Regions from separate parts of the Homo sapiens genome. Here regions 2, 3, 4, 5 and 6 are each linked to region 1. The links come from fine-mapping of genetic effects on gene expression. A gene starts in region 1. Each other region holds a variant in brackets. All regions are shown on one strand. Distances are between the middles of the regions. Region 1 holds the start of PDGFD (platelet derived growth factor D). Region 2 overlaps PDGFD (platelet derived growth factor D). Region 3 has its middle 110 kb from the start of MIR4693. Region 4 overlaps PDGFD (platelet derived growth factor D). Region 5 overlaps PDGFD (platelet derived growth factor D). Region 6 has its middle 71 kb from the start of MIR4693.

Evidence for each region. PIP is the estimated chance that this variant, and not a neighbour inherited with it, causes the effect. A credible set is the group of variants that fine-mapping cannot tell apart.
Region 2: its variant is the best candidate, but not a certain one, in a credible set for the expression of PDGFD in whole blood (INTERVAL, PIP 0.75).
Region 3: its variant is the best candidate, but not a certain one, in a credible set for the expression of PDGFD in whole blood (INTERVAL, PIP 0.87).
Region 4: its variant is the best candidate, but not a certain one, in a credible set for the expression of PDGFD in whole blood (INTERVAL, PIP 0.76).
Region 5: its variant is the best candidate, but not a certain one, in a credible set for the expression of PDGFD in lung (TOPMed, PIP 0.63).
Region 6: its variant is the best candidate, but not a certain one, in a credible set for the expression of PDGFD in lung (TOPMed, PIP 0.74).

The regions. Positions count from the first base shown.
Region 1 is chr11:104,161,602-104,166,894 of GRCh38, forward strand. PDGFD (platelet derived growth factor D) reads right to left here and starts at 2,546. Exons shown (of 7, transcript NM_025208.5): 1 at 2,203-2,546. The coding sequence starts at 2,326.
Region 2 is chr11:103,957,405-103,962,697 of GRCh38, forward strand. The region is part of intron 3 of PDGFD (platelet derived growth factor D); the gene reads right to left. Among named protein-coding and RNA genes, the nearest start is that of PDGFDDN, 53 kb to the left of the region's middle. The variant T/C (reference allele first, on the strand shown) is at 3,079.
Region 3 is chr11:103,741,486-103,746,778 of GRCh38, forward strand. No RefSeq gene overlaps it. Among named protein-coding and RNA genes, the nearest start is that of MIR4693, 110 kb to the right of the region's middle. The variant A/T (reference allele first, on the strand shown) is at 3,156.
Region 4 is chr11:103,930,120-103,935,412 of GRCh38, forward strand. All of the region lies in intron 5 of PDGFD (platelet derived growth factor D), which reads right to left. Among named protein-coding and RNA genes, the nearest start is that of PDGFDDN, 26 kb to the left of the region's middle. The variant A/G (reference allele first, on the strand shown) is at 3,211.
Region 5 is chr11:104,058,388-104,063,680 of GRCh38, forward strand. All of the region lies in intron 1 of PDGFD (platelet derived growth factor D), which reads right to left. Among named protein-coding and RNA genes, the nearest start is that of DDI1, 24 kb to the left of the region's middle. The variant T/C (reference allele first, on the strand shown) is at 2,750.
Region 6 is chr11:103,776,198-103,781,490 of GRCh38, forward strand. No RefSeq gene overlaps it. Among named protein-coding and RNA genes, the nearest start is that of MIR4693, 71 kb to the right of the region's middle. The variant C/A (reference allele first, on the strand shown) is at 3,064.

The DNA.
Region 1 (5,293 bases):
TCTCCCTCCTTGTGAATGGTAATACCACAGAAATGTATATCTATTTATATCTGCTAGCCCTTTGAAGGAACACAGACCGTTGCAATATCTAAGATTGTGTTCACCCTCTAAGATCTAATTGCACCCCATTGGGGACAATATTGCCCCACTTGAAGAATGCATGCTCATTTAGGAAAAAGCTGCCATTTGAAAATTTTCTAAACTAACAATCCATTATGAATATTAACATTTTTTACTCTATATAAAACAAATTTTAATGTGTAACTACGTTTTTCTCCTTCCTAGTCTTGCTTGTAAGATGACATTGACATTGAGGAAAGTATTGAGCAATCAGAACTAATCAAAGAGAGTGTGTGTGTGTGTGTGTGTGTGTGTGTGTACTGTTAAAGTAACTGCAAAACAGTTTTAACTGAAATATGAAGAAATGAGAAATCCAGGGTAGTTTTTAAAGCTTTCATGAAACATAGCATTTCCCATATAGACTGAACAGATGTATGGAGATGTATAGAGTTTTAACAATGGAAACTAAAATGAGATTATTCTCTTTCAAAAAAAAAAAAACCTGCTGAGCTACATAACTTGGTTTTAGTCAGAATCTTGGGTTAATGGGCAATGGTTACATGCTTTTCATTTTCTGTCCTTGACTTCTTGTAACTGATACTTGGGAGGGTGAGGATTACAAAATTATGGCTATGAAGTCATGCAAATTACAAGTGGAATTTTACTCTATGTAGCTAAAAGGACATATAAAGTGCAACTAATAACAAACCTACAAGATCTGTCCCTAGTGGAAACATTAAAGAGTAAAGACAAAAAACCACACAGTTTGGTGTTGGGCCTAATCCTTAAGTGTAGTAAAAAAATAAATAAATAAATAAATTACGTGCTTTTAACTAAGACAGAGAGTTACCAAAAATGCACGGCTGGAATCTTTTACATAAAAACGCTATGAAAAAGTAAGATGACTCTGTGGCTTCCCCTGCTACAAATCTACACCACTTCAGGTGACGAGTACACTGATATCCATAGTCTACTCATCATCAGATAACATAATGAAATTTTGGTTTCCCTGCAAAGTCCAAAAGTCATTTAGTAAATTCCAAATTAAGGACATACCAAGAAAGAAACTGATAAGATGGCTAATAGGAATTTACCAAGACAGTCAAATACTGTCAGCTGAAACTGTGAAGCCATCAACAATTGCTTGATGGTCTCCTTGGGAGATGTGTTAGTACTTTAAGCAAGCAGGAGAGAAAGATACTGATGTAGGAAAAAACAAGATCCAAAAGCCTATGGGTCAGTTCAGGTACATGGCAGAACAGCTAAAATTTGCTGGGAACATCAGCTACAGTTTTAGGTGGAGGCCCCAGAAAGTAAATAAACTCAGCTTAGGGTCTCTGGAACCAGTGACCCAGGTGTCCTCTAGAGTAAAGGAAAACAAACAAGCTGGCTTGGGACCTTGCTTAGGACAGCTGTTTCAGGAGCTGTGCTCCTTGTAGATAATTGGAAGCCGCTTCTGCAAGGAAACTAGCAGCAGAAGCCTGGTGCCCCTGTGGTACTGATGAAACCCCAGAAGCCTTGGTCTCCTACACTCTGAGCTTCTGAGTCAGGGTGAACTTCAATAGGAAAGTCACTTAGGGGACCTAAAGGGCAATAGGCTGCACACTGCCATTTCCCGAAAATAAATAGTAAATTGTCACTGTTCCAGATATAACTGCTAGATTGAAACGCACGATTTCTCCTCTCACTCGTAAAAATAAATAAATAAATAAATAAAATTTAAATAAACGTCTATCACCCAGGGAAAGCTACTCTTGACTCCTTCCACCTATCAAAATTGCCTAAGAAAGGTTGAGTCTGACCAAGGGGCGGCGCAGCTTGCAACTTTCGCCAACTCCGGGATGAGGCACCGCATCCTGGTACCAGAGGCTTGGACACCAAAATGACTTCTCTAGGGTGCAGCAAGGTGAGCCACCTGGCTTATCCTATCCCCATCAGCACGCGTCCCACACCTCTCAGTCCCATTCCGGAAATGGAGCTCTCTCAGGACTGGATACAGGCAGGAGACCTCCCTCCCCAAACAATGCATTCAGCCCGAGTTCACATTCAAGATTCAAAAAGAAAGGGGAAAAACATAGAAAGAACAATAACAATAGCAAACATGATTTTTTTTTCAGTTAAAAAATAAAATGAGTCTCTTACCATCTCGCCTGAGGTTGGCGTTGCGCAAAGCTTTGATGGATGCGCTCTGCGGGGTTGCAGAAGTGTCCCGACAGCTGCAAAAGTTTGCGCAGATTAGAGTGTAGACAAAGATGAGCCGGTGCATTTGGGATCAGCGACTAGAGACAGCGTCGCTCCAAGAAAAAGCCGGGTTCTGCTCCCGGGACCGACGCCGCGCCGCCCTGCGCTCTCGCCGCCTGCGCTCGCCCTGCGCTGGCCCGGGTCGCTGTGCTAATCGCCGAGCTCTCCCCAAACTTCCTGCATGCTGAACTTTCCGAGCGCGTGTGGGTGCCGCACTTCCTTGTGGTGCTGAGCTGATAAATGGTGACGGGACAAACAACAGGTTGACGTTTGTTTGTTCGCCCCCTCCGGTGGCCGGCAGCTGCAGCACAGGCTGCAGGGGGCGGGCAGCGCCGAATCTAGCGGGGCAGGCGAGCGGAGCAGCAGCGTTCTCCAGCCCCGGCCGCGGCCCCTGAGAGGCGCGCACTCGGGCTCAGAGCGGCGGCGCGAGCACCTCAGCTCCCCAGTTTCCCAGGCCGGGCCTAAACCTGCTCTGCCACTGAGCATGCCCAGTTTAATCGCCGGCCGGGACTCTTCCCACCGCCCTGGGCTTTACCCTCCTGGTTGGACCTGTAAGGGCTCAGGAAACAAACTCGCCAGGAGGAAGTGGGAGAGGGTAGAATCCCAGCACTTCTTCAGAGGTGACTGGCACATCCACCCACAAGCCACAGCTCTCCGCCTTGATGGTGGTGGGATGTGGGGACAGGGACTGGAGTTGGGAGTGTTTATTTTACAATAACCAAAATGAGACTCTACTTAGTTAAAATTTCACTGTTTATAGTGAAAAAATACAATCACAAAGGAGCTTAATTCCGAGCTTTTCTTTGAGCTCCCATCAGTGTGACCTTTGGGTGAGTCAAGGGTACCTTTTCAGGGAATAAAATAAAAATAAAAGTATATCACCCAGAGAAAGCTACTCTTGAGTCCCTCCATCTATCAAAAATGCCCGAGAAAAGGTCGAGACTGATGGAGGGATGGCGTAGCTTTCACTTTTCGCGAACTCCAGGATGAGTCAGGGCATCCTGGTACCAGAGAGTATTGGACACCAAAATGCCTTTTCTAGGGTGCAGCAAGATGAACCACCTATCACACAGGGCTGTAGACGTGATGGGCCATGTGGTGCAGTGTACAATAAGGGCAAGAAGTCTTCACGAGCGTTTTTATATGCACTAGCTCCAGCCCTTCCACAGGAAAGGGCAACAGGACAGAGTGGGGTTGAGCAGGAACAGACTGAGCAAGGGGAAGAAGTTGCAGAACACTGTGCTCACTTGCCTTCACAGTCCATAGGAAGAGGCATGGGTCGTTGAGGCTTTTGGGATTCTCCCTACTCTGCGTCTGGAAGCTCAGCAGTTGAAAGGGGCTGCCTCTGGTTTACATCGTGTGTCTGTCTGCCCATGGGAGGGGACTGTATTTGGAAAAGGAATGAGTCCAGACTCGCTGCTCACTGGCTTTGTCCCCTTGAGCAAATCATCTGATCTTTCGAAACTCAGTTTATTTATTTGCAAGAGTAGCAATTGTTAATTTGTATGGTTGTGGTGAGAATGATGTGAAAAAATGTTTAGCATATTGTTTTGTTTGTAGCTGAATCCAAATCCAAATTTATATGATTTCTCAATTTTCCGCTGATGAGATCTAGAAGAGAAAATTTTCAGTCTTTTTCAGGCCTTCCAGCTCCTGAAAGTCTGGCATATGGTAAGTGATATCCATACATAGGGAACTTTAAGTGGCTGAGAAGGGCAGGAAGTTCTGGAAAAGGTAGCCTTGTCAAGTTATTATACCATCCAACAAGGACGAGGGTTCATGTGTCCCTTCAACATAGTCAAAGATCAACATGTTTCATCTCTATTGGCTTTTTGGCTTAAAATGGTATTTTACAAAATTTAGGTTTGTGGGCCATGAAATCAACTTCAATACCAGAATAATTGTTTAAATAAATGGATTGGAATACAATAGTTTAGAAATTTAATTATCAGGGTTCATTGGAGATAATAATATTGTTTTATGAATATTTTGTTTCAGATACACGAACACTACAATATAATAGTTATTTCTTTGGGGCATGATCAAAAAAGTTTGAAAGCCCCTGGAAAAAAAGATCTAATTACATTGTTTCAGGATATAGTGAAACCCTGGGAGAGACACTAAGGATCATTTATTCATTCAACAGGTATTAATTAAGCATTAGTTTTTCCCCTTGTGTTATGCCCTGGTCTAAAAATCTTGGGGATTAAATTGTGAACAAGAAATAAAGTTCCTAATCTCTTTGAGTTTACATTATAATAGAGGAAAGGGAACATAAACAAGTAAGTATGTAACTGTGTTAATAAGTGAAAAGGGGTAGAGATAGATGGGATAGGAGTAGGGACTAATTGAAATATGTGATATCGTTTTTTAGAAGTGGTTGGAAATGCTCATTCAATTTCATACTTAGCTTCTGATATGAGACTATAGAAAAACGGAGAAAATTTGCAAATGACTTATAATTATGTAATTATGACATGTATCAAGATACTGACTTATTACAAGTATCAAAATGCTAAAATTGTGTCTTAATATCTTATATAAAATAATGAATTTTAAATATTCAATGTAGTGTTTTCCAAGATACTAATACTTTGAGCTCCCAAGGCATTGTGAATTCATAATTTCAAATATTTTAGGTAAGAATAGTAAGGGATATCACATATAATCAACATGTTCTTGATCTTTAATGTCAGTAAATATCCAAAATCAACAATAAAACACAAATTAGGCACCTGAACCCAACCAATTATTCTGGACCTGGTTTTAAAATATCTAATAATTAATTCTTACTAATTAGTTTGATCATATCAACTGAGGTATCATTGTACACAGAATATTATTTAATAAAAATATTCTTTTAGTGAGAAAGGTCTGGTACAAAGATAGAAGATTGTTTCAATTTATTTTTTACATGTATCTCAGACTCACCAAAATAGTGAATTTACCACTACATTTTGAATGCTTATAGGTCAGTTAGAAGAACATGAGC
Region 2 (5,293 bases), 200 kb before region 1:
CCAAGTCAATCCTAAGCCAAAAGAACAAAGCTGGAGGCATCACGCTACCTGACTTCAAACTATACTACAAGGCTACAGTAACCAAAGCAGCATGGTACAGGTACCAAAACAGAGATATAGATCAATGGAACAGAACAGAGCCCTCAGAAATAATGCCGCATATCTACAACTATCTGATCTTTGACAAACCTGAGAAAAACAAGCAATGGTGAAAGGATTCCCTATTTAATAAATGGTGCTGGGAAAACTGGCTAGTTTGGGAATTTGTTCTCGATATAGTAAGTAAAGATTAGAGCAAATCCCAGTCCAGCAAGCTGAGAAGAGAAGGGGGTCATTGATTTAAAAGGGGTCATGAGAATGATATTCAAGAACTAGAGAGGATCAGCGTGTTTGCAGATAGAGAGAGGGGTGCCGCATACCAAGGGGCTGCACAGAAAGTTGCAAATTGCAAAATACTACTTTGTTAATAGCTTCCATGGTGTTTGGTCATACCATGGTGTTTGGTGTATGGTGTTGGTTCACCAACCTCCATGGTGTTTGGTAAGTGAACATTTAATTTACACCTAGAGAAATACTACAGTATTTCTACAATCTGTTGCCGAAGAGCTAGGTTCAGATTTAAATTTTGTGACTAGTTGTTTAGCATTAAAAAAAAAAACTCTGTGATTAATTATTTTGCAGTAACGCCTGCCACTTATGGAGCACAGATTTTATGCCGGTGACTATATGAAATACTTTCCATAAATTATCTCATTCATCATTTCTACAGTAGCTTTAAAAGATGAGGAAGCAGAAAGACAGGATGCAAGCCCTATTATTAAGGAAGTGCCACAGATACCTGAAACCGTGGCTGAGTCTCTGTACTCTTTCATCTTTGTTGAATAATTCCTCTTTTCTTTTATAAATAATCCTTTTTATAAAATAAACGAATCTTCTTGATTTGTGCTAAGTTCAGGTTTTCATAAATTCCTTAAATGCATTTCAAAGAGAACATCTGATTCAATTCACCAGTGGTCTGAAATTTATTAAAGATTGTACTTTTGATATTGCTAAGCTAATCTTAAAGATTGTTTATACCAAGCTAAAATGAATGACTTAGGAAATTATTCCTGCACCTTAGGAAAATTACAAGTTTGAAATGAAGAAATACTGACCTGATTCATATTTTCATTTTCTTGCAAGCACAGTGCCTGGTACATAGTAAGCACTCTTTTTTGTTTGTTTGGTTTGTTTTTATTATTGTGGTTAAGAGAGGAAATACTGTTTCATGCTCAGAATTCAACAAACCATTTCACGCCTCTGTGCTGAAATTCACACTCCCAATAACTGCTAAATTTCTCTGTACTTGACTGACGTTATATAAATAGATTTTCTTCATGGTGGCCAAAAGCTAGTTACATTATTAAAACCAGTAATTAGAGAAAATGGGAATTACAAACAGTATGAAGATTAAGGCCATGTCACCAAAATCCCTTAGCTAAAATCATTATCTCTAAAAACTCAAATTATTCCATTACTAATTAAAACTCCTAAGATCTGACTTTAGGGAGAAAATACCATTTGAAGTCTAAAAGCCAAAGCCACAGTCAACACAGCTGGTACGGTTCCATGAAAAAGAGCACTCATGAAATGTTACTCAGCAAGTGATGGGATTATAATGTAAACGGGAACATTTTCTAAGAGAATCAGGAGTGTCAGTTGTAAAGTATTAAAAAAGCTGTCCATTCTTTTTAAAAATATGGGTATTTCCTAGTGAGGTGACTTTGCGTTGTGACACCTTTTCCCTCTACACATTCATCCTTATCCTTACACTGGACCAGTGTTCATTCATCAGAGCTGCCACCCATCATAATTATCATTTGGCACTATGGGCCATACTGAATATAAAATATTTAAGAGTCATGTTACTACTATACAGCTATGTAAATGAAAACAAGTAATTCAAAGTACCTTTTTCTTGACCTGACTTCTTTCTAAGGGGATTTCCAGAGTCATTTATGTGGTTAAACTAGAGAGATGGTTAATGTAAAGTCTGAAACAAAAGCATAGGACTCATACCCTTGCAAATTACTCTTCTCACAAAAGGGGAGATTCGTATATTCTTGACTTTGTACTTCCTCTTTCCACTCCCCACTCAACTAGCAACTAACTAAGGCAGCTGGCACATTTTGGATCTCCAAAGCAGGCTTGCTATCTGGGCCCATTAGGTGAACTTGTTGGAACTGAGTGCCAAGCACACAGGTCGTGAGTTTCAGACTGTGCTAAGTACAGGTTTTCATAAATTCCTAAGAATTTATGACAGAGCTGATAAAACTTTACAAAGAGAAAAAATACTGTTGCCAAACACCATGGTTAACATCAGTGAAAGAGACCTCCTGGGGGCAACTGCCTGACTCAGTCCATAGGACTTCATCCCTCCAAGTAAACAACTTGAAGTCTTCTCCTCCAGGCTGGGAGGATCATTTTGGAATAGGATAAATGGTAATTAAATGAGAGATCCTGCAATTTAATTTCTATTAGTTCATGCGTATGGGCATTAAAAATTCCTTTTTACTTTTGGTTATCATCAGTTAACAGGAACATCTTTTACTTTGACCAGTTATTACACTAGCAATATTCATCAGCAGTTTTATGAGTGAAAACACTAGGCTTTGCACAGCAAAATTTTAATCCCAGATTGGTTCTTCTTTGCATCTTGCTATAATTTTTTGTACCGTTACATCTGTGTACTTAGAGAATGCAAATTTACTGCCATATTCATCCAAACCAAATACAATTACAAAGGTATTTTTGGTGCCAAAAAAAGGATAAACTGCATTCCAGAGTGAAAGGAAAAATAGGGATTGGGTGAACTATTGCTTCTCCTCTACTGGACTGGGAAAATTCAGAGCTGACTAGGTTATTGCCCACGCCCAAGGATTAGCTGAGATATTCTTTGGACATGGATTTTTTTTGGCAGGCCTCATGCCTCACACTTACACTTTAAACTGTTATTTACTTATGTATTTATTTTTTATTCTTACCAGTTTGGAAGTTGCAAGGGATCTCATAGACTACTGAGTTCAAAGTTTTATTCAC[T/C]ATTTGACTGAGATTTTTGAATGACCAAAGTATGTAAGTCATTGAGCAAGGTGTTGGCTAATGCATGGATGCACAGGAAGCAAAATTGACCTTAAGAAATGTGTTGTCTAGATTAATTCTAATGTCCTACTCTTGTCATTCCTTTTTGTATCAGCAACTTTAAGTTTTTTAATGGCTTACCATTATCTCGAATTATCTTGTGTCTTAGTCAGTTGGAGCAGCTAGAACAAATTCCCATAGGATATGTAACTTGTAAAGAACAGAACTTTATTTCTGACAGTTCTAGAGGATGGGAAGTCCAAGACCGGAGTGCTGACATGGTTGGGCTCAGGTTTGCAAATGGATGTCTTCTTGCTGTGCCCACACATGGTAGAGAGAGAGAGAGATCTTTTCTCTCATGTCTCTTCTTACAAGGGCACTAATCACATCAAGATGGCTCCACCTTCATGTCTTATTTACCTCCCAAAGGCCCCACTTGTCAATACCAACAGAGTGGAGATTAGGATTTCAACAGATGAGTTTAGGGAAAACCCTCACATTCAATCCATAGCATCTTATTCACTTATTTCTGTACTTGTTTCCAGGTTTGTGTCTCTCCATTAGGGTGTAAGCTCCTTAAGGGTGGAAATGTTTTCTAACTTTCTCATTGCTCTCCCACCAAGTACCTACAACAGGGCCTGTTAACCTTTTACATTCAATAAATAGTGTTGCAATGGAAGAATGACTAGTCATTGAATTGCTGTGAGATTCAAATGAGATGAGTAATGTAAAGTCATAGCATATTGGCTGTTACATAGCAGATGTTAATAAATATTTGTAGAATGAATAAATGAATAATCCAATCTATAGAAATAAATGCTCTACTGGGGCCATAAGCAAAGCCCCATAGTTCTACAGGAGAAAGAATGATTTAAGTACATTTAGGAAGGCTGGAGGAAGGTCTCAGAAGAAGTGGCCTTGGAATTGACTTTTGTATGATAATTAAGGATTTTGATAGGGAAGCAGGCAGGTGAAGGAGAAAGCATGCACTAAGGCAGAGACTGGCATCATCTGGGATCTGTGAGTATGTCATGTGCCCAAAGTAACAGACAGGAAATTAGACTGACAAAGAAGGTACAAGACAAATCAGAGGATCCTGAAGACCACACTTGGGATTTTTTCTTAATCATCTATTCAGCGATTCATTTAATCATTTGTTCAACAGGTATTTATGGCTTCCACTACTACTGACTACACAGTTCAAGGTACTGGAGAAAAAGAAACAAAAAGAACTTCAACGTCACTGCTCTCACAGAGCTGTCATCCTGATCACCCTTTTCCTACATACAGGAAACAGCCCCAAAGGGTTAAGTGTCAGCGTCACTTGCCAATTAGTGCCTGCAGCCCAGGTCTCTTGACATACTGTACTGCATTACACTAAGTTGTAGGAAACTGGTTGTTAATATAGCCACATCTTCACCTCCTCTGCTCACATGTCTCCTTTTCAGTGCATATGAAAAATACAAAGAACATTTTTTTATAATCTGGAATTCAGTGAACTTAAGTAACATAATGGGGTTCCTAGGAAACCAACAAGAAACAACAGATAGCTATTCAGGGAAATGAGGGTGGTGGAAAAAAATTGAAGACAAGGAATTCGGTGCCGTTGGTTTGGAAAAACTTTTTGAAATGTCCATAATACTTTAAGGCAATCTTAGAATTAGGAGTCATTCCTTATTTTGGTAATCAAACCCCTCAAATGATAATAACATTTTCCACTCAAATACAATTTAGTCCTATCTTATCCCTCAGCAGGGTACAAAATTACCTTTCTTTTTCAAAGAAGAGTTAGAATGTTTTCCTGATCAGAGGATTCAATAGATGAGAATCCCTTAAGTACTTTATGATGACCCTTGAGGTTGGTCAGCAGGAATTGATTTGGAGGAATTACTAAAAGCTATGTCTAAACCCAGCAGGGATCATAAAGATGCTTGAATACAAATGGCCCTGGATGGCTTTCATCAAAGGATCTCTGAGTACAAACAAAATAAAAGCAAACTCCATGCCTGTAAATGAAGAGGAGGCAAGTTGAGAAACTCTTTTGCTACTTATCTTGCTAATATGAAATATCCTGCACTGTTTTGGATGGTAGAAAAGATTTGATAATCACCATGTGAAAACATTTTTAAAAACTGATGTTGGAGACAGAGCACTCAATTGAATTACATATGGAACA
Region 3 (5,293 bases), 420 kb before region 1:
TGCTAAAAACTCTCAATAAATTAGGTATTGTTGGGATGTATCTCAAAATAATAAGAGCTATCTATGAAAAACCCACAGCCAATATCATACTGAATGGGCAAAAACTGGAAGCATTCCCTTTGAAAACTGGCACAAGACAGGGATGCCCTCTCTCACCACTCCTATTCAACATAGTGTTGGAAGCTCTGGCCAGGGCAATTAGGCAGGAGAAGGAAATAAAGGGTATTCAATTAGGAAAAGAGGAAGTCAAATTGTCCCTGTTTGCAGATGACATGATTGTATATCTAGAAAACCCCATTGTCTCAGCCCAAAATCTCCTTAAGCTGATAAGCAACTTCAGCAAAGTCTCAGGATACAAAATCAATGTACAAAAATCACAAGCACTCTTATACACCAATAACAGACAAACAGAGAGCCAAATCATGAGTGAACTCCCATTCACAATTGCTTCAAAGAGAATAAAATACCTAGGAATCCAACTTACAAGGGACACGAAGGACCTCTTCAAGGAGAACTACAAACCACTGCTCAATGAAATAAAAGAGGATACAAACAAATGGAAGAACATTCCATGCTCATGGGTAGGAAGAATCAATATCATGAAAATGGCCATACTGCCCAAGGTAATTTATAGATTCAATGCCATCCCCATCAAGCTACCAATTACTTTCTTCACAGAACTGGAAAAAACTACTGTAAAGTTCATATGGAACCAAAAAAGAGCTCTCATCGCCAAGTCAATCCTAAGCCAAAAGAACAAAGCTGGAGGCATCATGCTACCTGACTTCAAACTATACTACAAGGCTACAGTAACCAAAACAGCATGGTACAGGTACCAAAACAGAGATATAGAGCAATGGAACAGAACAGAGCCCTCAGAAATAATGCAGCATATCTACAACTATCAGATCTTTGACAAACCTAAGAAAAATAAGCAATGGGAAAAGGATTCCCTATTTAATAAATGGTGCTGGGAAAACTGGCTAGCCATATGTAGAAAGCTGAAACTGGATCCCTTCCTTATACCTTATACAAAAATTAATTCAAGATGGATTAAAGACTTAAACGTTAGACCTAAAACCATAAAAACCCTAGAAGAATACCTAGGCATTACCATTCAGGACATAGGCATGGGCAAGGACTTCATGTCTAAAACACCAAAAGCAATGGCAACAAAAGCCAAACTTGACAAATGGGATCTAATTAAACTAAATAGCTTCTGCACAGCAAAAGAAACTACCGTCAGAGTGAACAGGCAACCTACAAAATGGGAGAAAATTTTCGCAACCTACTCATCTGACAAAGGGCTAATATCCAGAATCTACAATGAACTCAAACAAATTTACAAGAAAAAAACAAACAACCCCATCAAAATGTGGGCGAAGGACATGAGCAGACACTTCTCAAAAGAAGACATTTATGCAGCCAAAAAACACATGAAAAAATGCTCGCCATCACTCGCCATCACTGGTTTGATTTGATGCAAATCAAAACCACAATGAGATACCATCTCACACCAGTTAGAATGGCAATCATTAAAAAGTCAGGAAACAACAGGTGCTGGAGAGGATGTGGAGAAATAGGAACACTTTTACACTGTTGGTGGGACTGTAAACTAGTTCAACCATTGTGGAAGTCAGTGTGGCGATTCCTCAGGGATCTAGAACTAGAAATACCATTTGATCCAGCCATCCCATTACTGGGTATATACCCAAAGGACTATAAATCATGCTGCTATAAAGTCACATGCGCACGTATGTTTATTGCGGCACTATTCACAATAGCAAAGACTTGGAACCAACCCAAGTGTCCAACAATGACAGACTGGATTAAGAAAATGTGGCACATATACAACATGGAATACTATAAAGCCATAAAAAATGATGAGTTCATGTCCTTTGTAGGGACATGGATGAAACTGGAAATCATCATTCTCAGTAAACTATTGCAAGAACAAAAAACCAAACACCGCATATTCTCACTCATAGGTGGGAATTGAACAATGAGAACACATGGACACAGGAAGGGGAACATCACACTCTGGGGACTGTTGTGGGGTGTGGGGAGTGGGGAGGGATAGCATTAGGAGATATACCTAATGCTAAATGACGAGTTAATGGGTGCAGCACACCAGTATGGCACACGTATACATATGTAACTAACCCGCACATTGTGCACGTGTACCCTAAAACTTAAAGTATAATAATAATAAAATAAAATAAAATAAAAACAAGGAAAAAAAACAATTATTGTACTATTTTTCCAAATTTGCTTAACATTTGTATAATGGTGAAAAATTTTTAAGTGTTTTTACATACATTGTTTCAGATAGATAACTCGTTACTTTAGTGTTGTCGTAATTACGTATTATGTAACACAAAGTAATAAATTACCCTAATATAATTATATTGTAGGTGGACAGGCTCAGTTAGGTGGTTCTTATTTAGAGTCTCAAATAGGTACAGTTAGAACTTGGCTGTGGCTTGAGGCATCTGAATATTCCACCAGGCAATATTACCAAGGTGGCTTCTTAGGACACATTTTTTTTTTGAATTCTTATTTTGGATTTACAGGGTACATGTGCAGGTTTGTCACATGAGTGTTTTGCATGATGCTGAGATTTAGGGTGTGGATGATCCTGTCACCAAGGTATTGAGCACAGTTCCCAGTGGATAATTTTTCAGCACACACCCCCTTCTCTTCCTACCCCTTATAGTAGTCCCGAGTTTCTATAGTTCCCATCTTTATGTCCATGTGTACTCAGTGTTTAGCTCCCACTTATAAGTGAGAACATGTAGTATTTGGTTTTCTATTTCTGAGTTAATTTGCTGAGGATGTTACTGCACAGGACATGATTTTATTCCTTTTATGCCTGCGTAGTATTTCATGGTGTATACATACCACATTTTCTTTATCCAGTCCACCATTGATGTACACCTAGGTTGATTCCATGTCTTTGATATTGTGAATAGCACTGTGATGAACACATGAGCGCATGTGTCTTTTTGGTGGAATGATTTATTTTCCTTTGGGTATATAGCTAGTAATGGGATTGCTGGGGTGAATGATGGTTCTGTTTTAAGTTTTTTGAGAAATTTCCAACTGCTTTCCACAGTGGCTGAACTAATTTGCATTACCACCCACAGTGTAAAAGC[A/T]TTCCCTCTTCAGAACCTTGCTGGCATCTGTTCCTTTTTCACTTTTTAATAATTGCCATGCTGACTGGTGTGAGGTGGTATCTCATTGTGGTTTCGATTTGCATATCTTTGATGATTGGTGATGTGGAACGTTTTTCTATATGCTTGTTGACTTCTTTTAAGAAGTATCTGTTCATGTCCTTTGTCCATTTTTGATTACTTTTTTTTCTTGTGGATGTGTTTAAGTTTCTTGTAGATTCTGGATAATAGACTTTTGTCAGATACACAGTTTGTGAATATTTTCTTATACTCTGTGTTGTCTGTGTAGGTTGTCTGTGTAGGTTGTCTGTTTACTCTGTTGACAGTTTCTTTTGCTGTGCAGAAGCTCTTCAGTTTAAGTAGATCCTACTTGTTGATTTTCATTTTTGCTGCAATTGCTTTTGGGGACTTAGCCATAAATTCTTTGCTAAAACTCATGTTCAGGAAGGTATTTCCTAGGTTTTCTTTAGGATTTTTATACTTTAAGGTCTTACATTTCAATCTTCAGCCCATCTTGGGTTAATTTTTGTACATGGTGAAAGGTAAAGTTTCAGTTTCATTCTTCTGCATATGGCTAGCCAGTTATCCCAGCACCATTTATTGAATATGGAGTATTTTCCTCATTGCTTATTTTTTTCAACCTTGCTGAAGATCAGATGGTTGTAGATATGTGGCTTTATTTTTGGGTTTTCTATTCTGTTCCATTTGTCCATGTGTTTGTCTTTGTACAAGTGCTATGCTGTTTTGGTTATTGTAGCCTTATAGTATAGTTCAAAGTTGGTTAATGTGATGCCTCTGGCTTTGTTCTTTTTGCTTAGGATTGCTTTGGCTATTTGGGCTCTTTATTGACTCCATACACATTTTAGAATATTTTTTTCCAATTCTGTGAAAAATGACATTTGTATTTTGATAGGAATGGCAGTAAATCTGTAAATTGCTTTGGAAAGTATGGTTGTTTTAATGATGTCAATTCTTCCACTCCATGAGCATAAAATATTTTTTTATTTGTGTTGTCTCTGATTTCTTTCAGCAATGTTCTGTAGTTCTCTTTATAGATATTTTTCACCTCTTTTGTTGTATTCCTAGTTACTTTAATTTTTTGGTGGTTATTGTGAATGGAATTGTGTTTTTGATTTCGCTCTCAGCTAGGATGTTATTGGTGTATAGAAATGTTACTGATTTTTGTACATTGCTTTTGTATCCTGCACATTTACTGAAGTTGTTTATCAGTTCTAGGACCCTTTTTCACAGAATTTTTAGAATTTTTAAAGTATAGAATCATATTGCCAGCAAGAAGAGAGAGTTTGACTTTTTGTTTTCCTATTTGGATACCTTTTATTTCTTTATCTTGTCTGATTGCTCTGGCTAGGACTTTCAGTGATATGTTGAAGAGAAGTGGTGAGAACAGGCATCCTTGTCTCATTCTAGTTTTCAAGGGGAATTGTTCCAGGTTTTGGCCATTTAGTATGATGTTGGCTATGAGTTTTCATAGCTGGCTCTAATTATTCTGAAGTATGTTCTTTGATGCCTAGTCTGTTGAGGGCTTTATCCTGAAGGGATTTTGGATTTTATCAAAGGCTTTCTTTACATCTATTGAAATGATCATATAGTGTTTTTTTTGGTTCTGTTTATTTGAATCACAATTATTGATTTGTATAGGCTGAACTACCTTTGCCTACCAAGAATAAGAGCCTATTTGATCATGGTGAATTAACTTTTTGATGTGCTGCTGGATTTAGTTTGCTAGTATTTTGTTGAAGATTTTTGTGTCTATGATCATAAGGGATATTGGCCTGAAGTTTTCTTTTTTCTCTGTGTCTCTTCCAGATTTTGGTATTAGGCTGATGCTAACCTAATAGAATGAGTGAGGGAGGAGCAATTTCTTTTTTATTTTTTTGAAATAGTTTCAGTAGAATTGGTACTAGGTCTTTTATATCTGGAAAAATTTGTCTTTGAATCCATCTGGTCCAGGGCTTTTTTGGTTGGTAGGTTTTTAATTACTGACTCAATATCAGAACTTGTTATTGGTCTACTTACATTTTCACTTACAGATTGTGTTTCCAGGAATTATCTATTTCCTCCAGATTTTCTAATTTGTGTGCATAGAGGTATGCATAATG
Region 4 (5,293 bases), 230 kb before region 1:
TTTGACATCAATTAAGTTTTTTGGGCCTCATACAGGCAGTTTTCTGGAAAGGCTGGGAAGGCTCCCCTGTCCTCAAAAACTTCCTTTGGACATACTGGTAAAGTGTGGGGTGCTGCACAGTGCACAGGGGCGCACTTTTCCTTCTGCAGCCCTGCCTCTAGGTGCAGCCTAATCACAGAGGTGCTTTGAGATGTAATAAGAATGCTGGGATCTGAGCTCTAGAATGGGGATGTGAATGCACACCCTTTTATAGTTTCTAATATTAGGTGTGGGAGGAAGGAGAGTCAACCTGTTCTTTTTGATCCTGGCCATCTAGACTACTAAGTGCTGTGTTCATCATGAGTGCATGAAATACTCATAAATGCTATGAATTACATACAATCATTACTCTTACTTTTGCAGTTGAGGAAACTGAGCCTTTCAAAAGTTAAGAAAAAAAAAAAAAAAACTTGTCCACAGCCATACAACCAGTCAGTGGTAGAGCCAGAGTTTGAATCCAGGCCTCTTCATGCCTTTTGTACATTATGAGCCCAGTGTAAAGATTTGAAGGAGGGTTCAGAGAGCAGCTTCCACAAGCGATGCTGAAGTCTTCCCACCAGAGGACCACTTGCTGTGCAAATGACCTGGCTTCCTAGGTGCACCCATAGGCACTAACCTGTCATTTTCACAATGTCATTAATACACATACCCAAGCACGAGCAGCTGTGTATCCTCATCCACCTATTCAGTTCTGACTAATAAACCAGGCAGCTATTCAGAGTCTACTTTTGTCTTTGGTATTGTGATAAAACATTTCGTCCTTTTATCTGAACCGAGTGGACTTTGGCCAATGCACACTCTTCCTTTTGTCCTCATTTCTCCTTGAACCCTTTCTTGCCTCATCTAGGAGCTGAATGGATTGATAGCAATGATTTGTCCTCAGTGGGAACAAATGCCAGGATCCTAAAGATTCTAGTTTCTGTAGGACAGATAAAACCAATATAATATTTCACATACTTGGCAAGCACAACATGGGTGGTGATCAGCTTAAGATAAAAATTTAAAAATCTATTCCTTATTAAAGTGAAACATATTTATTATTTTATACAAGTTACCTGTTCTGGTGGACAGAAGTCCAAAATGTGCCTTACTGGGTCAAAATCAAGGTATGTAAAGGTAAGTCTGTTTTTGTGAATACAAAAATTCATTATGAAACAAAATAATCTCCTCACTTTGAACATGGGAAAGCACCTTTGTTCTCCACATGCACAATAATTTACTGCTTGTTTTGGTCAACAAGAGGATGGTTTCCTTGAGTCAGTCTCTAAACATTAAGTTATCAGTTGGCTTTCACTGTGCTGGCCATTCATCAATCTTTATTCTGATAGTAGAATCACATGCTTTTTTCTCTTGATCATCCACAGACTGTCAGAGAATCCAATTAAACTGCTGCATGTCCTTGAAGACAGTCAGTAATCTTTTTCTTTTCTTTTCTTTTCTTTTTTTGAGACAGAGTCTTGCTCTGCTGCCCAGGCTGGAGTGCAGTGGCATGATTTCAGCTCACCATAACTTCCGCCTCCCAGGTTTAAGCAATTCTCCCGCCTCAGCCTTCTGAGTAGCTGGGACTACAGGTGTGTGCCACATGCCCAGCTAATTTTTGTATTTTCATTAGAGATAGAGTTTCACCATGTTGGCACCAGTAATCATTTTATTGTTGTTACAAGGTCTAGCCTTTATAATGCTAAAGTTCTTTATAAACTCTTAGCAGGCATGCAGCAGCAGCCTACATACTAGTGCATATTTACCACATGGTGATGGCATGTGGAGAATGAGCACTCAAAGTAGGGCCATGATGTTTTTGAAAACCATGCTCTTGTTCTTCTGTTTTGCTTTCTCTGGCATCTCAGCTTGCTATATTATTTTAATCTTCTAGAGCTCAAGTCAAAAGGCATATTCACTCTACATCTCCTATGACTCCTTCTCTATGTACTCACCACACTTTTTCTGCCCTCTATTATAGCATTTACTTCATAGACCTTGTTTTGTTTTCTTTGCAGATAGTCCAACTTACAATGGTTCAACATGAGTTTTTTTTTTTTTACTTTTTGATGGTGCTTTCAGCTGTGTATGTTAATGGTGAGCACCCATAAAACCATTCTGTTTTTCACTTTCAGTAAAGTATTCAATAAATTATATGAGCTATTAAACCTCTATTATAAAATAGGCTTTGTGGTAGATAATACTGACCAACTATAGGCTGATATATGCGTTCTGAACATGTTTAAGGTAGGCTAGGCTTAGCTACGAAGTTCAGTAGGCTATGTGTATTGAATGTGGTTTGACTTAACTATATTTTCCAATTACAATGTGTTTATTGGGATGTAAACCCATCAAAAGTTAAGAAGCATCCATATTCAGGTGCTTCTCTTCTATTGAACTAAAAAAGTTGTTGGAGGTAGAGAGCTAATCATCTTTTTATCCCTTCTCTTCTAGTACTTTGTCCCTAATGTAAGGACCAAATGCAGCTCATTCAAGCTCACTTCTAAAACCATTTGACTTCAACGATTAGGAGCAAGGTGCTGCTGAAGGAAGCACAACATCGTCTTTGTGCCAGATTCCCTTTGCAAGAAATAGACACTCAATAATTACTACCTGAATGAATCAGATAAACCATGGATTTTTTCAGTTTAATTTTTTATCACAAAGGTGAAACAATTCCAACTATCTTTCAGGAATGCATAGAGTATTATTAATACTTTATATGTTGAATGTTTGGATCTTATCTCAAGACTAGTCTAGGATGTGGTGTAGTGCGAAAGTGTTAGGTTAGAATTAAGAAACTAGGATTTAGAACCATCTCTGCCAAGGATGAACCAAGATGCATGAGATGACTGGCACCAAGATCTGTGAAATATAGGAGTGGCACACATGGTAGAGCATGGTCTTGAGAAGACTGGTTCTCAGATGCAAACATCAAGGTGCTAAGGAACATTGCCTTTGTCAAATGGGAGACAGTGCCATAATCTGTTATGAAAAGTGCTAAACATTTCCCTTTAATGTTGCAGCACCAGGTTTATGATGCTTTGGGGTGGGGTGGGAGGTGAGGGGACTATAGGAATAATTGTATTATTTTTGTTAAACAACCAGGGGCTCTCAGCCTTTCTCAAGGTTCATAAGTTCACCAGGAGTCTTCATCCTTATGAATATTACAACCTCACTGTGATTTTCAGA[A/G]TCCCTCTTCTATAAATCAGCACATAATTATGAAAACTGTTTTCACATTTCAATCCCAATGCAGAAGTGCAAATAAATCTGGAAAGGACAATTATTTTATAAGTTTTAATGAGGGACTATCAGGATACTTTAACTTAAAATTATGAAAGACACTGAATTTTGTGACTCCACATGTGGGTTTAACATCTAAAGAATAAAAACATTTACCACTTGTTTTTACACAAATTAACCTAAATCACAGCAAAAGATTCTTAATCAGACAATTCCTGATTTTCAAGGTTTAGAAGCATTGTGAAGCAACGAGTGAATGCAAACTTACTGAGCAACTACTATGTATCCAGCACTTTGTGAGATGCTTTCACAAAATCAAATTTCATTTAATTCTCACAGCAAACCCTCATCTTAGATATTACAATTCCCATTGGATGGATGTAGAAACTGAGTTGCAGAGGACTTAAGTGACTTGCCTAAAGCCACTGGACGTAAGTAGATATTCAGCACATATGTACTGGAAAATCAATGGATGACTGAATGAATATCTGGAAGGCACTGAATTAGCCATGAAAGCAGTAACACCATCATAAAGCCATTCTCTGAACCCTGGGAATTCATGACCTGGGGTGATGTATAAAGCATATCTATGAAATGAAAAATTTTTTAAAAAACAAGTTAGGAGATGAAGGTCTTAAAATTTCTTGTTCTCATTTACTAGACTATGAATCCCTGAGCTTTAAACACCATTGAGTTGCTCACAGCATGAGCTTTGCAGCCAACAAGGCCAAGTTCATGTCATGATTCTCTATTTTCTAGCTCTCACAGAAACTTTCTGAATTTTTTTCTTTTACTATGCAAAATGGGAATCACAGTAGCTCCTGCCAAGGAACTTGTTAAGATTAAATGAGTTTTGAGTGTTTGAAGCACAGGTCTAAATCCTACCTCTCAGTAGGTATGCCCACATTATTACTGAAGTGAGTAACACAGATCAAAGAAGGAAGTTTAAATCAGAAGCACCTAAAACTAGAAGGAGCTGAGATTCTGTAATTGGTGATTACTAAGGAATAGAAGGCCATGCCCACCTTGAACTAAATACAAAAAGCCAATGATCAGGTGTCTTCAGTTTGATTACATCAGACGTAACACTATCCTTTGCAAGTGTATTAGTCCATTCTCATACTGAGATAAAGAAACACCCAAGACTGGGTAGTTTATAAAGAAAAGAGGTTTAATGGCCTCACAGTTATGCATTGCCTGGGAGGCCTAAGGAAACTTACAATCATGGCAGAAGGCGAAGGAGAAGCAAAGGCACGTCTTACATGGTGGCAGGAGGGAGAGCATGTGTGCAAGTGTAGGGGAACTGCCCTTTATAAAATCATCAGATCTTGTGCCACTCACTCACTATCACAAGAATAGCATGGGGAAAACCATCCCCATGATTCAATTATCTCCATCTTGTTTCTCCCTTGACATGTGGGGATTATGGGGATTATGGGGATTGCAATTCAAGATGAGATTTGGGTGGGGACACAATGCATAACTATATTAGCAAGTAAAGACACTCAGTGAGTTGGATCTCTCAGCACCAGCAGGGCCTACAAGCATATATGCTCTAGGAGCAGTGTAGTGTCTCCTTAAGTCTAGTGGGGCATAAAGGAAAACAATCCCATAATAATTTTCCAATGCTTCACAGAAAAAAATTAGCACAGCAAACACAAGGAACACACATTTCTCTTTAACAAGAGTAATTGCAGTGGAAAATGCACATTTGTTCATCCGACGCTAAAAGTTACCTATGGCTTTCCACTGTCAACTGGATTTTTCCTATTGATTTGCATTTGAATGACATGCCTAGATGAGGGGAATAACTTTGATAATGAGGGTGGGGTTAGGATATCCACAAAGACGGACAACTGCGTCTAGGATGAAAGCAGAGGTGGCACAGGCACCAGGAGGAAAAACAACTGAAAGTTGTCCCACTGCTGAGATTTTCTTAAAATATTTCATGTGTGTGCCCTCATAGACACACACAATATGATAAACAACAATATGGTTTTTATGAATGCTTGCTGGCAAACAGAGTAAGTGA
Region 5 (5,293 bases), 100 kb before region 1:
AAAAAGATGCTCAGCATCATTAGTCATTAGGAAAAAGCAAATCAAACCCATAATGATATATCAAAACACATCCACTAAAAAGACTAAAATTACACAGCAACAACGAGGACAACAGGCAACAGAGAATGCTGGTAAAGATCTGGAACTCTCATGTATTGTTGATGGGAATGCACAAAGGATCAGCCACTTTGGAAAATAGTTTGGAAGATCCATATAAAGTTAAACATACACTTACCACACTCATAGGTATTTATGCCAAGGAAATAACAACACAGAGCTATACTCACATGTTCATAGTTCATGGTAGCTTTATCCGTAATAACTAAAAACCAGAAAAATTTAAATGAGCAAATGCCCATTGAATGAATAAACCAAATTACAGGAGTTTCATATGATGGAAAACCTCTCACAATAAAAATGAGTGGACTATGGATACATTCAACAACGTGAACGAATATGTAAAGCATTATGCTAAGTGAAAGAAGCGAGACACACAAGGCTGTATACTGCATGATTCCATTATATGATACTCACAAAAATGCAAAACTACAAGGGCAGAAAACAGCTCAGTATTGCCAGAGCATGAGGATAGGGGAGGGGATCAACTACAGGGAAGCACCATGGGACATGGGCCATTTTCAGGTGACAAAAATATTACAGATCTTGATTGTGGTGGTGGTGACACAACTGTTCATAATTGTCAAAACTCAACCTGTACAACTGAAAATGGTGAATTTGACTCTGTGTACATTATACTTCAATAAATCCATCTAAACAAATTTCAATGGCAAAAAAGAGTATTTGGAGCTAGGGAGTTTCACAGTGGCTGTAAAATACTATTTGTGTTTTTGAAGTTGTGTGTTCTTCAAAATGTCTGACATTCCTAAGCAAATATAAATCGTAAACATTCCTAAATAAATACAATCTTCATATGTAACTTTTACTTAAAAATAAAAAGCCTTTTTCTTAATAACTGTCAGCAATTTCATTAGGACATGATTCTTAAATATCTTTATATCTTTATCATCCATTATTTTGATAAACTAAATACAAAGTATCTTTTTACAAATGTAACATCCCTCTCTCCCCCAAGTGAACATTTTCCATAAATATTTAGCACTAGATTGTTACAGTATTGTTATTATTTTAAGATCAGTTAATTCAAATCCAACTCTAATTAATTTATTGACCTTTTCCAATTTACATTATAAAAACTCCCACTTTTAAGCATTTCTCAGGTGCCTTTTTCTTCTCTCTCTTCTGAGGTCTTGTCTGCCTAAGGAACAACTAATCCTTCAAAACTGCTTGAACAGCCTTCCTCCCTGAAGACTCTGCTGTTGTTGATTCACCAATTTCTTCCCTGCATTTCAGGTCAACTAATCCGTTTCCAAGATAGTACCCCTCTGACATTTATTTGTCTCTTCTACTAAAATGAGAACAGGATCTTAGCTTATATATCTTGATTTTCCTAACCTCTAGCAAACTGGCTAACACCTAGAAGGCTTAAACACAATTTTGCTTTGAAAACAAATCATTTTGAATATCAGTTGTCATTTCACTGTATGGGAGATTTAGCTTCTGCAAGGGATTGGCCTAAATGGGTGATAGCCTGAGGAGAAACATCAGAATGAAATGGTATTTGAAGGACAATACACTAACTCCTAATTTGATTTTGCTTGTTTGCCATTTGTTTCTGTTTGATAAGGGCATTGTGTCATCTCAAAAGACCGACTAATGGGGGTTACATCAGAAACATTCACTATTACAGCAGCAAAGGATTGTACAGATCCACTGTGTTATGAATTACATTTTGACAGTGTCTTGGCATCTTCACTTCTAGATCTAGGTTTTGTCCAGATCAGCAACTCAGAGAGGTTCCAGGTGTCCACATATGCTTGGGTGTAATGTCTGACTCATGTGGCTTCCTCTTTCCTGGGCTAGGCTTTTCCACTGTCTTGGACAAGGTGAGCATGCTTCTCTGGACCAGGTAGCTGGCCCAGAGGCCTGGAGGAGTACAGTCCTATTTATACTGGGCCTGGGTACACATCTGGGTGGGATAAGCATAGAGGGTATCACTGTTTTCTCTCAGTGCAGGGGTTGGGAAGGGTTGAAAGGCTGCCCCTGGGTTGCTAATTCAGATTTAATTATAGTGCCCATTGTTAAATTCTGCATAAGTTTGTAGCCAAGGGGAATTCTGTCTGGCTCATTAGGAGACATTCCTGTGTATACTTCTGTTTGTCCAGCTTAGTAGCAGAGTGAAAAATGCTTGATATCTTTTTACTAAATGAATGAACAAACCTATGATGTGCCAACCCTGTTTCAGGAGGTACGTCTCCCATATGGTGCTTCTGTGCGTGTATTTTTTAACAGCTTTATTGAAATACCACATAACTCATTCATTTAAAGTACAATTCAAATGTTTTTGTATAGTTCACTATTATTTTTAAAAAACTGGAGTAAAATATACATCACAAAATTTGCCATTTTAACCACTTTAAGTGTACAACTCAGTGGTATTAATTACATTTACAATGTTGTGCAACCATCATCACCAACTATTTCTAATTTTTCATCACTTCAAACAGAAACTCTACAACCACTAAGCAAAACCTCCCCATTTCCTCCTTCCCACAGGCCCTGGTAACCTCTAATCTACTTTCTCCGTCTATGAATTTGCATGGTGTCTGGCTCATTTCACTTATAATGTTTTCAAGGTTTATACATGTTGAAGCACATATCAGAACTTCAT[T/C]CCTTTTTACAGCTAAATAATGGGTCAAAATATGAAAGGTAAACTGTATAGTTTATAGAAAATAACAGAGTATATCTTTATGACACTAAGTAAGAAAATAATTCTTAGCCATGACATTAAAATGCTAGTCAAAAAGGAAAAAAAAAAGTGTTAAAACTGTATCAATTAAGAATGTCTGTTCTTTAAAAGACACCAAAACATGTACTGAAAAAGCTAGTCACAGAGTAAGAGTAGATTTTGCAACCCATATAACCAATGATATGCCAGTATTCAGAGAAATATATTTGAACACCCATCTAAATCGGGAGGGAGCGGGCAAAAAAGACTTAACAGATGCCCTAATTTTAAAAGCGATCAAAAATCTGTTCCATTAACAGATGAATGGATAAACAAAATGTGATATATTCATCCAATGAAATACAGTGTGTGTATGTTTGATACATTGCAAATTCAGTGTTTTTCTTTCTGTTTTTTGTTTGTTTTCTGTTTCTTTGAGACAGTCTCTCTCTATTATCCAGGCTGGAGTGCAGTGGCGTGATCTCAGCTCACTGCAACCTCGGCCTCCTAGGTTCAAGCCATGCCTGCCTCAGCCTCCTGAGTGGCTGGGATTATAGGTGCATGCCACCATGCCTGACTAATTTTTTTATTTTTAGTAGAGACGGGGCTTGGCCATGTTGGCTAAGCTGGTCTTGAACGCCTGGCCTCAAGTGATCCGCCCGCCTTGGCCTCCCAAAATGTTGAGATTACAGGCTTGAGCCACCATGCCTGGCCGTTTCTGGTGCTTTTGCCATTTCAAGTGGTTACAACTCGAAGAAGTTCAAGTAGGTACTGACCTCTGCTATCTTAGCATACTTTTGGCTTGTCTATGCCTCTAGTTTCTATTCTCGTTTTTCTCACGTTTCGTGGAATGTTTCATAATTGAGACACCATCCCCTCTAGTCAAGCCTAAGCTTTTCTGAGTGGGAGGGGAGAAGAAGGGACAGCTTTTCAATGACATTTTGTTTGCAATAGGAGATAAAGGGTAGCAACTTCTGACTCCATCTGCAACAGTGAACATCACCTGGTTCCCAGACAGCACCCAGTGTTTCTCTCTGTCACACAGAAACAGATACCTTCAACCAGCATTCCAGTTACAACCTTGGGCAAGTTCTTCCTGGGATATTTCTCAACCCTGTTCTTGGCCACAGAAAAGGCAAATTCCTCCATCTGTTCTTTCTCTGCATGTCGTAAGATCTGGCTCTTCCTATCTTTCTTCCTTGACTCCGTCTAATAAAAAGACTTTTCTGAACTCGAAGTATGTGAAACTGCATAACTGGTGCTATCAATCTGATATAAAATGGCCCATTTAAGTTTTGAATTACAAGTTTTTTTGTTAGGCTGCAAAAATATCCAAATGGCAGCTCAATACCTCAGAATACGTTAGGAATAATTACTTATATTAATTCAATATATTTATTCATCCACTTAAATCTTGAGTTTATTGCAGTAGTAACCAAATGAGAACTGACATACAAAGAGAATACATTATTATGCTACTACAAACATTGTCTGAATTGCTGCAGTTAAAAATAAGTAAATTCAAAGCTACTTCCTGGCGACAAACAGGGATGTTTGAAAATTCATGTTAAGGGAAGAAAACAAAAATGCCTTTAATCAGATTAATCACCATTTTCCACAACAGATATGCTAATGAATTTGATGATCAGATATGCAGCCTTCTCTAGAGATACAAATATAGAGTAACTGTCAGTGCTATTAATTTTATCTCCCATGTATTCCTGTGAAACGTTGTGAACCTCTATCTTCTCTGAACCACAATAAAATAAAACAAAAAATCCTCTAATTTTGAACCTCCACAGTTTTGAGTTATATAAACACTGAAGAGCTTCTCCTCAGATCCAGTAAACTAGGGCAATTGCCCCAAGCTCCAAGCTTTGGAAAGAACTGGGAGACATGAATTCAATTATGCTGCTAAATAGTACAGAATGAGGACAGGCTTTTGAGGTAAGGAAGGTAGTTTTCTACTAAAGCAAAAGATTTTGACGCCTTTCTACAAATACACATACTCAGGCAATACATACCAATATCATCATCAACATTAAGGTAAAACAGGAAATCTCTATAAGAGTCCTTTACTGATTCATCTTACCTTCTATGATGCTGTTTTAGACGTGTGTGTGTGTGAGAGAGAGAGGAGAGAGAGAGAGAGAGAGAGAATTTACTTTGATAAACAAGCAGAAGAGGAATTAATCTGGGTTCTGCAATAATTAGGTTATCCTGGGAACATCATTAAATCATAGACTTCTGAACTTTAAAATCAGAGTGGATTTTTAAAATCACTAAATCCAGCACCATCAAAAATTATGTTACCTGAAAGCAGTAGGTGTATACCTCAAGGGGATGTATTAGTCCGTTTTCACACTGCTATAAAGAACTACCGGAAACTGGGTAATTTATAAAGAAAAGAGGTTTAGTTGACCACAGTGCCACATGGCTGGGGAGGCCTCAGGAAACTTACAATCATGACAGAAGGTAAAGGGGAAG
Region 6 (5,293 bases), 390 kb before region 1:
CTGTGACATTTTGAGTAATCATCCAGGGACTAGGAAAGTAACTGGTCTTTACTGTAACTGCCTTTTAAGTTGCCGGTCATTGTAGGTAGAAATTATTTTGAAGGAGGTTCCCAATGGTGAAAAGTCTCCTAGATGCACCCTTTTACATTCCCACCAGCAGTACAAGATTCCAGTTTCTTCACATCCTCACCAACATATAATCTTTTTTTTTTTTGATAATTGTTATCCTAACAGGTGTAAGTAAATATTTCATTGTGGTTTTGATTTCCATTTCCCTGATGTCTGGTGATATTGAACATCTTTCCACATACCTGTTGGCCATTTGTGTCTGCTTTGGATAAATGTCTGTTCAAGTCTTTTTCTCATCTGCTAATTGGGCTTTTGTCTTTTTGTTATTGAGTTGAAGAAGTTCCTTATATATTTTGCATATTACCTATTATAAGATGCATGGTTTTGAAACATTTTCTCCCACTTCTTGGGTTTCTTTTTTTTTTTCACTGTGTTGATTGTTTCCTTGCTGTGTAGACTTTTTTTTTTAGTTTGATGTGGTCTCCCACTTGTCTGTTTTTGCTTTTCTTGCCTTTGCTTTTGGTGTCATATTAAGAAGTCATTGCCAAGACCAGTGTTATGAAACTTTTTCCCTATGTTTTTCTCTAGGAGTTTTACAGTTTAAACCTTAAGTTTTAGCCTGTAATCATTTTGACTTGATTTTTTTTGTGTGTAATATAACATAAGGTACGATAAAATGTTACAGCTACAATGGAAAACATTATGGATGTTCCTAAAAAAATTAAACATAGAAATACCTCTTGGTCCAGCAATCCTATTTATGGGTATATCTCTGAAAGATTGGCCGGGCGCAGTGGCTCAGGCCTGTAATCCCAGCACTTTGGGAGGCCAAGGCGGGCTGATCATGAGGTCAGGAGTTTGAGACTAGCCTGGCCAACAGAATGAAACCCTGTCTCTACTAAAAATACAAAAAATTAGCCAGGTGTGGTGGTGGGCGCCTGTAGTCCCAGTTACTTGGGAGGCTGAGGCAGGAGAATCGCTTGAACCTGGGAGGCAGAGGTTGCAGTGAGCCGAGATCATGCCATTGCCCTGCAGTCCAGGCGACAGTGCAAGACTCTGTCTCAAAAAAAAAAAAAAATCTGAAATCAGAATATTGAAGAGATATTTGCACTCCCATGTTCATTGCAGCATTAGTCACAATAAACAAGATTTGGAAACAAACTCAATGTCCATCACGGTATATATATACAGTAGAATATAATTCTGCCTCGAAAAAATAGGGAATCCTGTCATATACAACAATATAAATGAAGCTTGAGGACATGATGCCAAGTGAAATAAGCCAGTCACAGAGGAACAGGTACTGTATGATACCACTTATATGAGGTATATAGAATAGGCAAGCTCATAGAAACAGAGAGTAGAATGGTGGTTATGAGGAGCTGAGGGAGGGAGAAGTAAGAAGTTGCTATTCATCAAGTATAACGTTTCAGTTATGCCAGATGATTAAGTATACATATCAGCTGGACAACATTACACCTATAATTACCAATACAGTGTTGCACACTGAAATTATTTTTTAACAGGGTAAATTTCATGTTAAGTGTTCTTACCCTAATAATATGCATATAAATTATCTTGGTAAAATTCTGATTCTGATTATGAAATGTTTGCAGTGGAGCCAAAGAGTCGAAATTTCTAGTAGGCTACCAGGTGATGCCAATGCTGCTGGTCTGTGGACCATACTTTGAGTCACAAGTGTTTAGTAGGGGTTGACAAATTATGGCCCATGGGCCAAATCCATCCTGCCACCTGTTTTTGGATGACTCAAGAACTAAGAATGATTTTCACATTTTAAGATTATTTTTAAAAATCAAATGAAGAATAATATTTTCTACCACATAAGAAATATATGCAACTCAAACTTCAGCATCCATAAATAAAATTTCATTGGAACGTAGCAACACGCATTCCTTACAGTTTTGTGAATGGCTGCTTTTGTGCTACAACAGTAGACTTAAGTAGTTGCAACGGGGGCTATATGATTTGCAAAATCTGACATATTTACTATCTGGCCTTTTACAGGAAAAATTTGCCAACTTCTGGAGTAGAGGGTAACTTGGATTGTCAAAGAAGTAAATATTATCCTCCAGGGTTTCATTTTATTTTTTTCATTGCTATCAGCTTCTCACAGCAGCAGCCTTCTGCCTACTGGCATTTCTCACCAGACTCAAAGAGTTTGACCCTCTCTTTTTTTTAAGGCACGATGCTGGGCACATCAAGTTTGAAATGTTATGTAAGTCAGAGTTTACAATGTTATGTAAGTTAGAGTTGCAACATTATATAAGTCAAAGGCTCCTCTTGTGGGAATTACTGACTGGACTGTGTCATTTTCCCTTGCTCTTGTTCAGCCTCACTCCATCATACTACCAGATGTGCTCATACACATGGATGTTGTCTAATGTGCAGAGGAAAACTTTGCTTTAAAGTTTAGAAAACAAAAACAAGTAATTCTATTTATTAACATTATTTGAAAATGGACATTGAGATCTATGTATTTCTACCAAAAAACAGATTAATGTAACCTGTTTTAAATGAAATAATGAAATGGGTCTGTAGAACTTGCATCAGCATGAGAGCTTGCTATCCTCAGATAAGACCCTTAAATCCAATTCTTTATTCATCATGGAGTCCCAGTTTTACCCCTACCATAAGGGAAAATGACTTAAGGTTTCTGCCCACCTCTTTCACCAAAGTTTGCAAGTCTGAAGTGGTGAAAAACAAATTACAGCCACTAAATAAAATTTAAAACTGAAAAATGTGAGAAAAATTACTGCAAACCAGGCCCTGTAAGTCTGTTCTTCTGAGGTTACACAGGGCTGCCTGCAGGTACACTAAGATTCTTCTTCCTTGTTCAAGGGGATGACAAAAGCTCTGTCATACATAGTGGTTATTTTGAAAATATGTCAAAAATTTAACTTATGAAAAGTCCTGAATCATATCTAAGTACATAAGCCTGGTTTAGTTATTCTTCCTAATGGCTCCAGGTTAAGA[C/A]TAGTCAACATAATTTTCTCTGGTTTGGGGGATAGTCAGGAAACCATGGCTGCTGCCTTCAGTGGTGCGTTCTTTATTATTTTTGGCTCCTAACAACCATAACTGGTTCAGACATGTTGACCTAATCTAGCCATAATAGGGCAGCTTCCTACCAGCTCAGTCCTTATAGAAATTAAGGTGTTAAGAAAGATTGAGTAACCCACATTTCTCTGTGAGCTCTTGTTTTCATAAGTATACACTGATTTTTGTTTCAGGTACTTTCATGGTTAATAAAATTGTCATTTAAAAATAAATAGAGTAAAAATAAATAAAAATTTAAAATTATTTATTAAGTAATTCAGGTACTCATTTGGTACAATAGCCCTATGAAATAAGTTGATTTTTCCATAATGGTTCAATACATTACTCAAAGTCATGCAATTATTTCATGGAAGAGACAAAATTCAAACCCCAGGCTCAATGACTCTGGAACTGATACCCTTTAATTTGAATGTATGTTTTTTCCTGACAGAGTAACTCTCAAATCCCATTGTTAGAGTCTGCTGTCACATAGACCTGGAAAATTCTACAGGCTGTCTCCCCTTCTTAAAGAGTCATAATGTATACCAGCTTATTAACAGCTCCAGGCTTATTAATGGCTTCCCTATATAAATCTATGTATATTTGTTTACTCCCACATTTCTCAAATTTATTTTCCCACTGACCCCATCCTCCTACCACTACCTTTCTTAACACTACGACTAGCAACAATCTGCAAAACACATTTTGGGAAATATTGCACTAAGTCATTCAGGTCCTGTTGTTGATACTGTAGGGATGTGAAATCAATTGAGAGAAAATATTCCAGGACAAAGAGAGAGGGAGGAGAGGGAGAAGAAGAAAGAAGAAGAAGAATAAGAAGGAGAAGAAGGAAGAGTAGGAGGAGGAAGAGGAAGAGGAGGAAGAGGAGGAGAAAGAAAATAAAGGAGAGAAAACAAGAAGAGAAAAAGAAAAAAAGAAAATGCTATATCGTGACTGAATTGAAACATGGAAAGAGGGAGGAAGGAAGGACATTCTTCTGGCAAATCACTCATTTATATTCACTAATATAAATGGAATTTTTAATACTTCAATATTTTGTAGCAATTAATAAAAAAGGTTTGGCAAGCAGCCAGAACATCTTTCAGCTTGTTTTAAGTTCCTGATGGAGGGACACCAAGATTCAGAAGACACAGCCTTTTTCCTCTATGGGATCATAATATATTATAACATAAAACACAAGGATACAGATAGTATCAATAGCACAGACTGCATGACAAGTGCCCCTGGAAATGTACAGGGTTCAAACTTGGGCTCTATAAATTCCTAGCTTGTGTCCTTAGGCAACCTACTTAAACTATCTGTGCCTCAGTTTCCTCATATGTAAAATGATAATAATAGAATAACCTACTTCATAGGGTTGTTGTGAAGATTAAAGTACTCAGAACATTCCTGACATACAGTATGCTTTATAAGTGTCGATTATTATTATTATTATTATTTTTTTTTTTGAGACAGAGTCTGGCCCTGTCGCCCAGGCTGGGGTGCAGTGGCGCGATCTCAGCTCACTGCAAGCTCCGCCTCCCGAGTTCACGCCATTCTCCTGCCTCAGCCTCTCGAGTAACTGGGACTACAGGCGCCCGCGACCACGCCCTAGCTGGGACTACAGGCGCCCGCGACCACGCCCGGCTGATTTTTTTGTGTTTTTAGTAGAGACGGGGTTTCACCGTGTTAGCCAGGATGAATTATTAAGTTTTATATCACTATTTTGAAACAAATTCGTAAAAAAATCAGAAATCTGAGAAACAGAGAAAATCCCTAGGAATGCCATGAAAGAGTAAGATGGATGAAAGCAGAAGTGCATGACCTCTGAGTAACCAGTCTCACAGGTTTGTCCCAAACTGTGTGTGAAAAGAAGGAAGGCTGGGCAGAATTCAGCATTTGAATGGCTGGAAGGAGCTGCCATTCTAGAATTGGTATTTGGCAGCATATAGAAAGTAACCAGGAAGACCAAATATCCCAAGGATTGTGGCTAGAGCTGTGAGCAGACTGAGCTGGAAGTGGAATGGAGGGAGATAGACCATGAAGAAACAGCATGCTTACAATGATCCAAGATATTGAACTCACCTACCCTTTACTGTCAATTCAGTAGTTTTGCACTGAATTGACATATCTGTATTGCTGCATATCTGTAAGGAGAGGAGGAGGAATG